Linked DNA regions of Homo sapiens. The protein of the gene in region 1 interacts with the protein of each later gene in a biochemical or structural test. Each region holds a gene or a part of one and is shown in the gene's direction. Other genes may lie near its edges.

Region 1 (3,748 bases):
CATGCCCTAGGTGTTGAGGGCAGCTGGAGTTTATTCTTTCACCTGTGGTGTAGCATGCATATATTAATAACTTTTTCACTATCTGTTTGTGTTTTAATAGCTCAGCTTTCACAGCTGACAGGCATAAGAAAAGAAAACTTTTGGAAAACTCAACACTAAACAGCAAGTTATTAAAAGTAAATGTAAGTAATTAAAATTTATTCAAATATAAGAGTTAGTTGAGATTTAATCACTGTTTTGTTACAACTCTAACATGTAATGTTACCTGTTACAGACTTTTATAAATGTGTGTCTTGGATTTGGAGTATTTTACACAATGTTTGCCACCTGTACTGTCGATTGTTGCCGTGACCCCAGTGAGTCCATCTGTCAGCACCTTCTTCCCATCAGCGTTACTGCTGTGCTCCTCTTCCCTAGAAAACAGTTCACTCTTAATACTTGCTCACACTCCTTCGTCATCAGAAAACCCAGCCTTTGTTTTTAAGACTAAGTCTTTAGCTTCAGGCGGCTTTTCCTTTTTTTGAGATGGAGTCCCACTCCGTAGCCCAGGCTGGAGTACAGTGGCGCAGTCTCGGCTCACTGGAACCTCTGCCTCCCAGGCTGAAGTGATTCTCCTGCCACAGCCTCCCAAGGGGGTGGGACAACAGGTGTACACCACCACGCCTGGCTAATTTTTGTACTTTTATTTTGTTTTTGTTTTTGTTTTTTTTTTTTGAGATGGAGTCTCACTCTGTCACCCAGGCTGGAGTGCAGTGGCACAATCTTGGCCCATTGCAACCTCAGCCTCCTGGGTTCAAGCAATTCTCCTGCCTCAACCTCCCAAGTAGCTGGGATTACAGGCACACGCCACCACGCCCGGCTAACTTTTTCTGTTTTAGTAGAGACGGAGTTTCACCGTGTTGCTCAGGCTGGTCTCGAACTCCTGAGCTCAGGCAATCCACCCACCTCAGCTTCCCAAAGTGCTAGGAGTACAGGCATGAGCCACCACACCCAGCCTTTTTGTATTTTTAGTAGAGACGGAGTTTCGCCATGTTGGCGGCCTGTCTTGAGGCGCCTGGCCTCAGGCAGCTTTTCAAGATTCATATCCCATTGTTAGGAAAACGTGTATTGGTCGTTTATGTATGGCTTAGAGTTAAAAGTTTGGGGACAAAAATACTTGGGGTGTATATATTTATATTTTTTCCATTTCTCTTAGTTTTTATAGAATCTTAAAAAGGCATTAAGTCTTAAATGTTATTTTAAGGATTTCCTGTTTTTTGCATTGTGTACTCCATGGTACTCATTAATGGTGATTTCCTCATAAGCTTTCAATAAGATACTTCTATTTAGAACAATCCCAGGATCAGAAACAGCCTTCTAAAAATATCCAGACATTTATACAGAGACTAGAGAGTTTGTTTGAAATATTCATTGGACAGAAAAGGACCAATTCCAAATTGGCTTGGTGCTAGATTTCAGAGGCCTTTCCTTAGCTTTGATGTTTGAAACAGTTGGCCTTCCCTTGGCATTACTGATGGCCTCTTCTTGCACCACTTACAGGGAAGCACCACTGCCATTTGTGCCACAGGCCTTCGGAATTTGGGGAACACATGTTTCATGAATGCCATCCTTCAGTCACTCAGGTAACGCTACAGTCAGAGCTTAAGTGTCTGACATTAAAGGTTAAGAGCACGGGCTCTGGCTCCCTATCTCGTCTGCCACTAACTCTAGTCATATGGTTTGGAGCAAGATACCTTAATTTCCTGTGCTTTTGTTTCCTCATCAGTAAAATTGGGGACAGTAGTTCCTACCTCATGGGGTAGTTGGGAAGATTGAATAATGTAATTTGTCTAAAGTACTTAGAGCAGTGTCCTGCAGTGAATAGTTGTTTGCGGTTATTTCCGGTTGCTTTTTGAATAGGCTAGAACTGAGGTCAGCAAACTTTTTCTGTGAAAGGCCTGATAGTAAACATTTTAGTATTTCAGGCTACAGTCTCTCTCAGATATCCCCCACCCCCCCGCTCTTTATTAAAACAACACTTTAGGGCCAGGTGCAGTGGCTCAGGCCTGTAATCCCACCAGCACTTTGGGAGGCTGAGGCGGGCAGATCACCTAAAGTCAGGAGTTTGAGACCAGCCTGGCCAACATAGTGAAACCCCATCTCTACTAAAAATACAAAAATTAGCTGGGCGTGGTGGCATGCGCCTCTAGTCCCAGCTGCTTGGGAGGCTGAGGCAGGAGAATCGCTTGAACCCAGGAGGTGGAAGTTGCAGTGAGCCAAGATGGCGCCACTACACTCCAGCCTGGGTGACAAAGCGAGACCCTGTCTCAAAAATAAATAAATTAATTAATTAATTAAATAAAACAACACTTTAAAAATTTAAAACTCGCTTTAAGAGCTGCCTGGTGGAGGGCTAGATTTGGCCTGTGGGCTACAGTTTGCAGACCCCTGGGTTACAGAGAGCCTTGTTCAGAGAGCTTATTTCAGTCATTAGTTAAGTTTTAACCCATTTATGTCAGAGGTTGCAATTTTTCTGTATGAAAAATCAGACGTTGGTGATGACCTCGATCAGTAAGATATAAATAACTCCCAGAAGCTTAGCGTTCCAATAATGGAACACTAGGCATAAATGGGTTAATCAAGGTCATAAGATGAGATGTCTTCAAAATATGAGACAAGTAGTAAAAATAAAATAGTCAACAAGGCTGACTTAAGTTTTGTAGAATAAATTATTTTGAAAGTTGCATACTTTTAGATTTTAATGAGACATCAAAGGCCAGAATAAATGATCTTCCCAAGGTTACATTGCTGATAAGAAGCAGAAGGCATATTTGATCTCTCCTGGAAGGCACTGCCTCTTAGCTTATCTCTTCTTGCTCAAAGAGGAAATTATAATTACTACTGAATTCTCCTTAGGATTCTGTATAGTGTATCAAAATAATATGGTCGGTTTCATGGTTTGTTTTTATTTGAGGAAATTATTGAATAACTGGAAACAAGCAACCGAAAAGAAAGAAATGGTGACTACCTATAGCTGGAGGGAGAATTGGGGATTTTTTTGAAAAGAGATTTTGTTTTCAGCTCTTTGTTTTTTGTTTTTGTTTTTTTACAAAGTCATCTGTCTATACTGTTTTCTTAGAGAGAAGGAAAAATCATAATGAAGAATCTGAATGCAAGAGATTGCACTGAGTACAGTTTAAATGAGACAATTGAAAAATGGCAGTTTCAAAATGTATATGTAGGCTTCATCAACTTTCTTTACAGTCCTATTCTTTTCTTTTTAAAATATTTTTCCCTTCCTTTTAAAATAGTAACATTGAGCAGTTTTGCTGTTATTTCAAAGAACTGCCCGCCGTGGAGTTAAGGAATGGGAAAACAGCAGGAAGGCGGACATACCACACCAGGAGCCAAGGGGATAACAATGTGTGAGTTATAAGAGTATGTCCTTTCTGGCTTTGAGTTACAAAACAAATTACTTTCACTGGTGGTTTCCATTGTACTAAGTGAGCTAACAGGCACATGCCTTAAAAAAAATCTTCTAAAAATTGTGTTTAAATATCTAGTTAGCAATCTTAATAATTGTTGGAATTCCGGCCGGGTGTGGTGGCTCACGCCTGTTATCCCAGCACTTTGGGATGCTGAGGCGGGTGGATCACCTGAGGTCAGTCAAGACCAGCCTGGTCAACATGGTGAAACCCCATCTCTACTAAATATACAAAAATTAGCCGGGCATGGTGGCGGGTACCTGTAATCCCAGCTACTCGGGAGG
Region 2 (3,748 bases), on another chromosome or scaffold:
AGGGGTCACCATCGTCCCTCTGGCACCTCCAGCCATCTCTGACCACTCCTGGAGGGCCCAGGCCTGGAGGGGCCCCCATCCCACTCTCTGACCACTCCTGGAGGGCTGTCCCCCGCCCGGGCCTGGAGGGGCCCCCGTCCTACTCTCCGACCAACTCCATGGTGTTAACTCTGTCCCTGCCCCACCTCATCCTTTCCAGGGTGACCGAGGCGAGAGGGGCCCAGAAGGGTTCCGCGGCCCCAAGGGTGACCTCGTAAGTGAGAGGGAAGTTGGTTCCCTGGGTCCTTATGTGGAAGAACCCAATTTCCCTCCTGACTCGTGCTGGGGAGGGGGACACACTTGGGAGTGAGACTGCAAGGGGCTGCCTGGGTGGGCCTGGGGGTGCGTGGGGGTGAGCCTGACCCTGGAGGGCCCGAGCTCTCTCCCTGGCCCCAGCCGTTCTCCCAGAGCCACATGGGAGCTCTGTGGCCCCCTGCAGAGCGGCCCACGAGCCGGGTGGAGGGACCAGGCTCCAGGGCTTGGATCCTGCCCCCAGAGAAAACGGCTCTCGGGTTGAGCAAGTGAACATAAGGAAAGTCCAGAGGCAGCCAAGCGTTCCAGGAGTGGAACTGAAGTGACCGTCCCCAGACTGGTCAGCCTCCACACCTCCCTCGACTGAGCCCTGGCAGCCGGAGTGCAGGGAGCCGCCGTGCCGTCCTGCAGCATCTGTGGATCCAAACACAGTTTTCTCCACGCACCCACAGGCCCCAGGGTGGTGGTCGGGGGTGGCCCCTGCCGCTGCCCACCATAGCTCCTTGGTGTCCCCGAGCAGCTGGCCGGAGAATGCGTGAGGCCGTCTGGGAAGAGACTGCCACTGCTTCTGTCACTTGTGTGTCCTCTAGGGCAGACCTGGTCCCAAGGGAACCCCCGGAGTGGCCGGGCCAAGCGGAGAGCCGGTGAGTGCACGTGGCTGCTCATGGAATGCTCCTCCCCCGGGTCCTGGGTATGTACAGGTGGAGATGGCATTCAGAAGGGCTGGAGCTCAGTGCCCTCTGCTGTGGCCATCTTGAAATCTGGGTTAACGGTGGAACAGCCCCGCAGCCCCACACATTTCTCTCTTGCCCAGAGCCTCACGAGTGTGCAGGAGTAGGGGCCTCAGGCTGGGTTTACCTGCACAGAGGACACGGGAAGTAAGGGTGGGTGGGTAGCACCACTGGGCAGAGGTGGGCACTCCCAGGGTCCCGGGCACCCATGCGGGCACCTTCCTTCCTGCTGGGTGCCCACCCTCAGCCCAGACCTGAGCTCCCTTCTAGCCCCTCGTGTTGCCTCTGCCCCGGAGTAGTGCCCTGTCTTGGGACACCCAGCAGTTGGCTGTGTCCTGATTCCAAAACCAGTCCAGGGTGGACGAGGCAGGCCTGGCCTAAGGCCTCAGTTTCCCCACCGTAAAATGGGCCAGAACCAAACTTCCTTAGGGCACCATGATGTGCCTGGTGGACGAGGCCTCGGGCGTCAGCACTGCATCAGCACCGCCTCTGCCACCCACCCGCACCCCTCACCTGTGCGGTCACCGAGGCAGCACTGGTTGCCACACGGCCACCTTGGTCATGAAACCAGATAACTGCCAGGGTGTGGGGGCAGACACAGTTTTAGGTTGATGGGGAAGGAGGCTGCCCCCAGGGCAGGACTGTAGAGGGAGGGAGGGGGGCCACTGCCCGACGGGCCTTACTCATCCCTTGTCCCCAGGGCATGCCGGGCAAGGACGGCCAGAATGGCGTGCCAGGACTCGATGGCCAGAAGGTTGGCATGGGGCTCAGGGTGTGACGGGAGGGAGGGGGCTGGAGGGGAGTTCGGCCTCCCGAGGCCTCAGCCTCCCCTTCCGCACCCCAATCTCTGTCCTCACAGGGAGAGGCTGGTCGCAACGGTGCTCCGGGAGAGAAGGGCCCCAACGGGCTGCCGGTGAGTGCCCGGCGGGTGGGGCCAGCCTGGGGCGCCACAGCTTCTGCCTGCTCAGTGGCCCATGTTGGGCTGGGTGGGTTGGTCACTGTAGGGCCGACTCCCTGTGAGGGGTTCTGGGGCCTGTGTCCATCAGGGCCTGGCACAACCCCTGGTGCCCAGTGGGTGCTGTGGACGGTTGCCTGTATGTTTGCATGTGTGTGCTTATTCGTGTGTACATGGGACATGTGTGAACATGTTGATGGCCATCCCTGGATGCCGTGCGGTCATCACCCCCATGGGCTCTGAGTAGGGGCTCCTGCATCCAAGGCCAGGGAGGCTGTCAAAGCCGCACCTCAGGTCCACAAGGCTGGGAGAAGTTGGCCCTGCCTTTGGGTGCACTCACTCTGGCCCCTGCACCCTGCCTGCGTGCACGCCCCTGGGTGCTGCTGCCGGCGTGCAATGTAACTGGCAGCCCTGACCGCAAGCTCTCTCCTGGCAGGGCCTCCCTGGACGAGCGGGGTCCAAAGGCGAGAAGGGAGAACGGGTATGTGGCTGCAGCCGCTTTCTCTCTGGGAGGGGAGGCGAGGGGCCGGGAGGCAAGGGGCTGGGGGGCCAGCGACCTGGCCCCAGTGCAGGTGTAGGCAGGCACTCACAGCTCTCCTTCCTCTACAGGGCAGAGCTGGGGAGCTGGGTGAGGCCGGCCCCTCTGGAGAGCCAGGCGTCCCTGTGAGTATCTGCGGCGCCCCAGACCCCTCCCCATCCAGCCTGTGTGCAGACCCTGCCCTGACACCCTCCTTCCTTTCCCTGTAGGGAGATGCTGGCATGCCTGGGGAGCGCGGTGAGGCTGGCCACCGGGGCTCAGCGGTGAGTGCAGGGACATGGCCCGGGGTCGGGGGTTAGCACTGAGCCATTGGCACATGGCCCCAGTTTCTGAGCAGGCCGGGGTGGCATTTGGTTGCCTTGATGGGCCAGGCCCACAAAAGCCTAGGATGCCAGGAGGTGTGGGGCCCCATCTTCTTGTCCCTCACCCGCTGGGAGACGGTCGGGGCCAGGCCGGAGCTGCCCTGTTTTCAAGCCTTCTATGCTGAGCCCAGCCTTGTGCCCCCATAGACTGAGATAATGACAGCACCAGCCACAGGGCCCTGGTGGGGGGAGCCAGGGGCATGGGTGCCTGGCCCCGAGTCTGGCCTGACAAATTGGGTCCAGGGTATGCCTGAGTTCTGAGACCCCCTAAACTGCCCTGGGAGGTAGCCCTGCCTTTGTCCCCAGCAACCCAGCCAGGTGGCTTAGAACCGGCTCCTGTGTCCACCCACTCTGGGGGAAGGCTGAGCCAGGCTCCCTGGGGCCTCTTGGGGACTCCTCGAACCCTGAGACATCCGCTCACACCTCACCTTTGTCTTCCAGGGGGCCCTCGGCCCACAAGGCCCTCCCGGAGCCCCTGGTGTCCGAGGCTTCCAGGTGGGTGAGGTTGGGGCAAGGGCCTGGCATGGGGGGCGGCACACCCAGACGGGCCAGACCCGACAGGGTATGGGCACTGACGAGCCAGGACCTCCTTCCCCAGGGCCAGAAGGGCAGCATGGGAGACCCCGGCCTTCCAGGCCCCCAGGGCCTCCGAGGTGACGTGGGCGACCGGGTAAGTGGCCCTCTCAGCAGGAAGCTCCCCTGCACCCCCTCTACCCATGTACCACAGTCCCCCACCCCCATGACAGTCCCCCAACCCCCACCACAGTCCCCCAACCCCTACCACAGTCCCCCAACCCCCACCACAGTCCCCACCCCCTACCACAGTCCCCCAACCCCCACCACAGTCCCCCACCCCCTACCACAATCCCCC

What was found. The genes of interacting proteins can lie anywhere in the genome.
Region 2: the proteins of USP3 (region 1) and COL9A3 form a complex in vitro, tested with the Homo sapiens proteins (one study listed by BioGRID).

What each region holds. Positions count from the first base shown.
Region 1 is NC_000015.10:63,556,567-63,560,314, forward strand, and holds part of USP3 (ubiquitin carboxyl-terminal hydrolase 3), read left to right. Parts: intron 1-100; coding exon 101-182; intron 183-1,539; coding exon 1,540-1,622; intron 1,623-3,290; coding exon 3,291-3,404; intron 3,405-3,748. UniProt on the Homo sapiens protein: Deubiquitinase that plays a role in several cellular processes including transcriptional regulation, cell cycle progression or innate immunity.
Region 2 is NC_000020.11:62,827,042-62,830,789, forward strand, and holds part of COL9A3 (collagen alpha-3(IX) chain precursor), read left to right. Parts: intron 1-199; coding exon 200-253; intron 254-881; coding exon 882-935; intron 936-1,722; coding exon 1,723-1,776; intron 1,777-1,881; coding exon 1,882-1,935; intron 1,936-2,413; coding exon 2,414-2,458; intron 2,459-2,586; coding exon 2,587-2,640; intron 2,641-2,724; coding exon 2,725-2,778; intron 2,779-3,318; coding exon 3,319-3,372; intron 3,373-3,475; coding exon 3,476-3,547; intron 3,548-3,748. UniProt on the Homo sapiens protein: Structural component of hyaline cartilage and vitreous of the eye.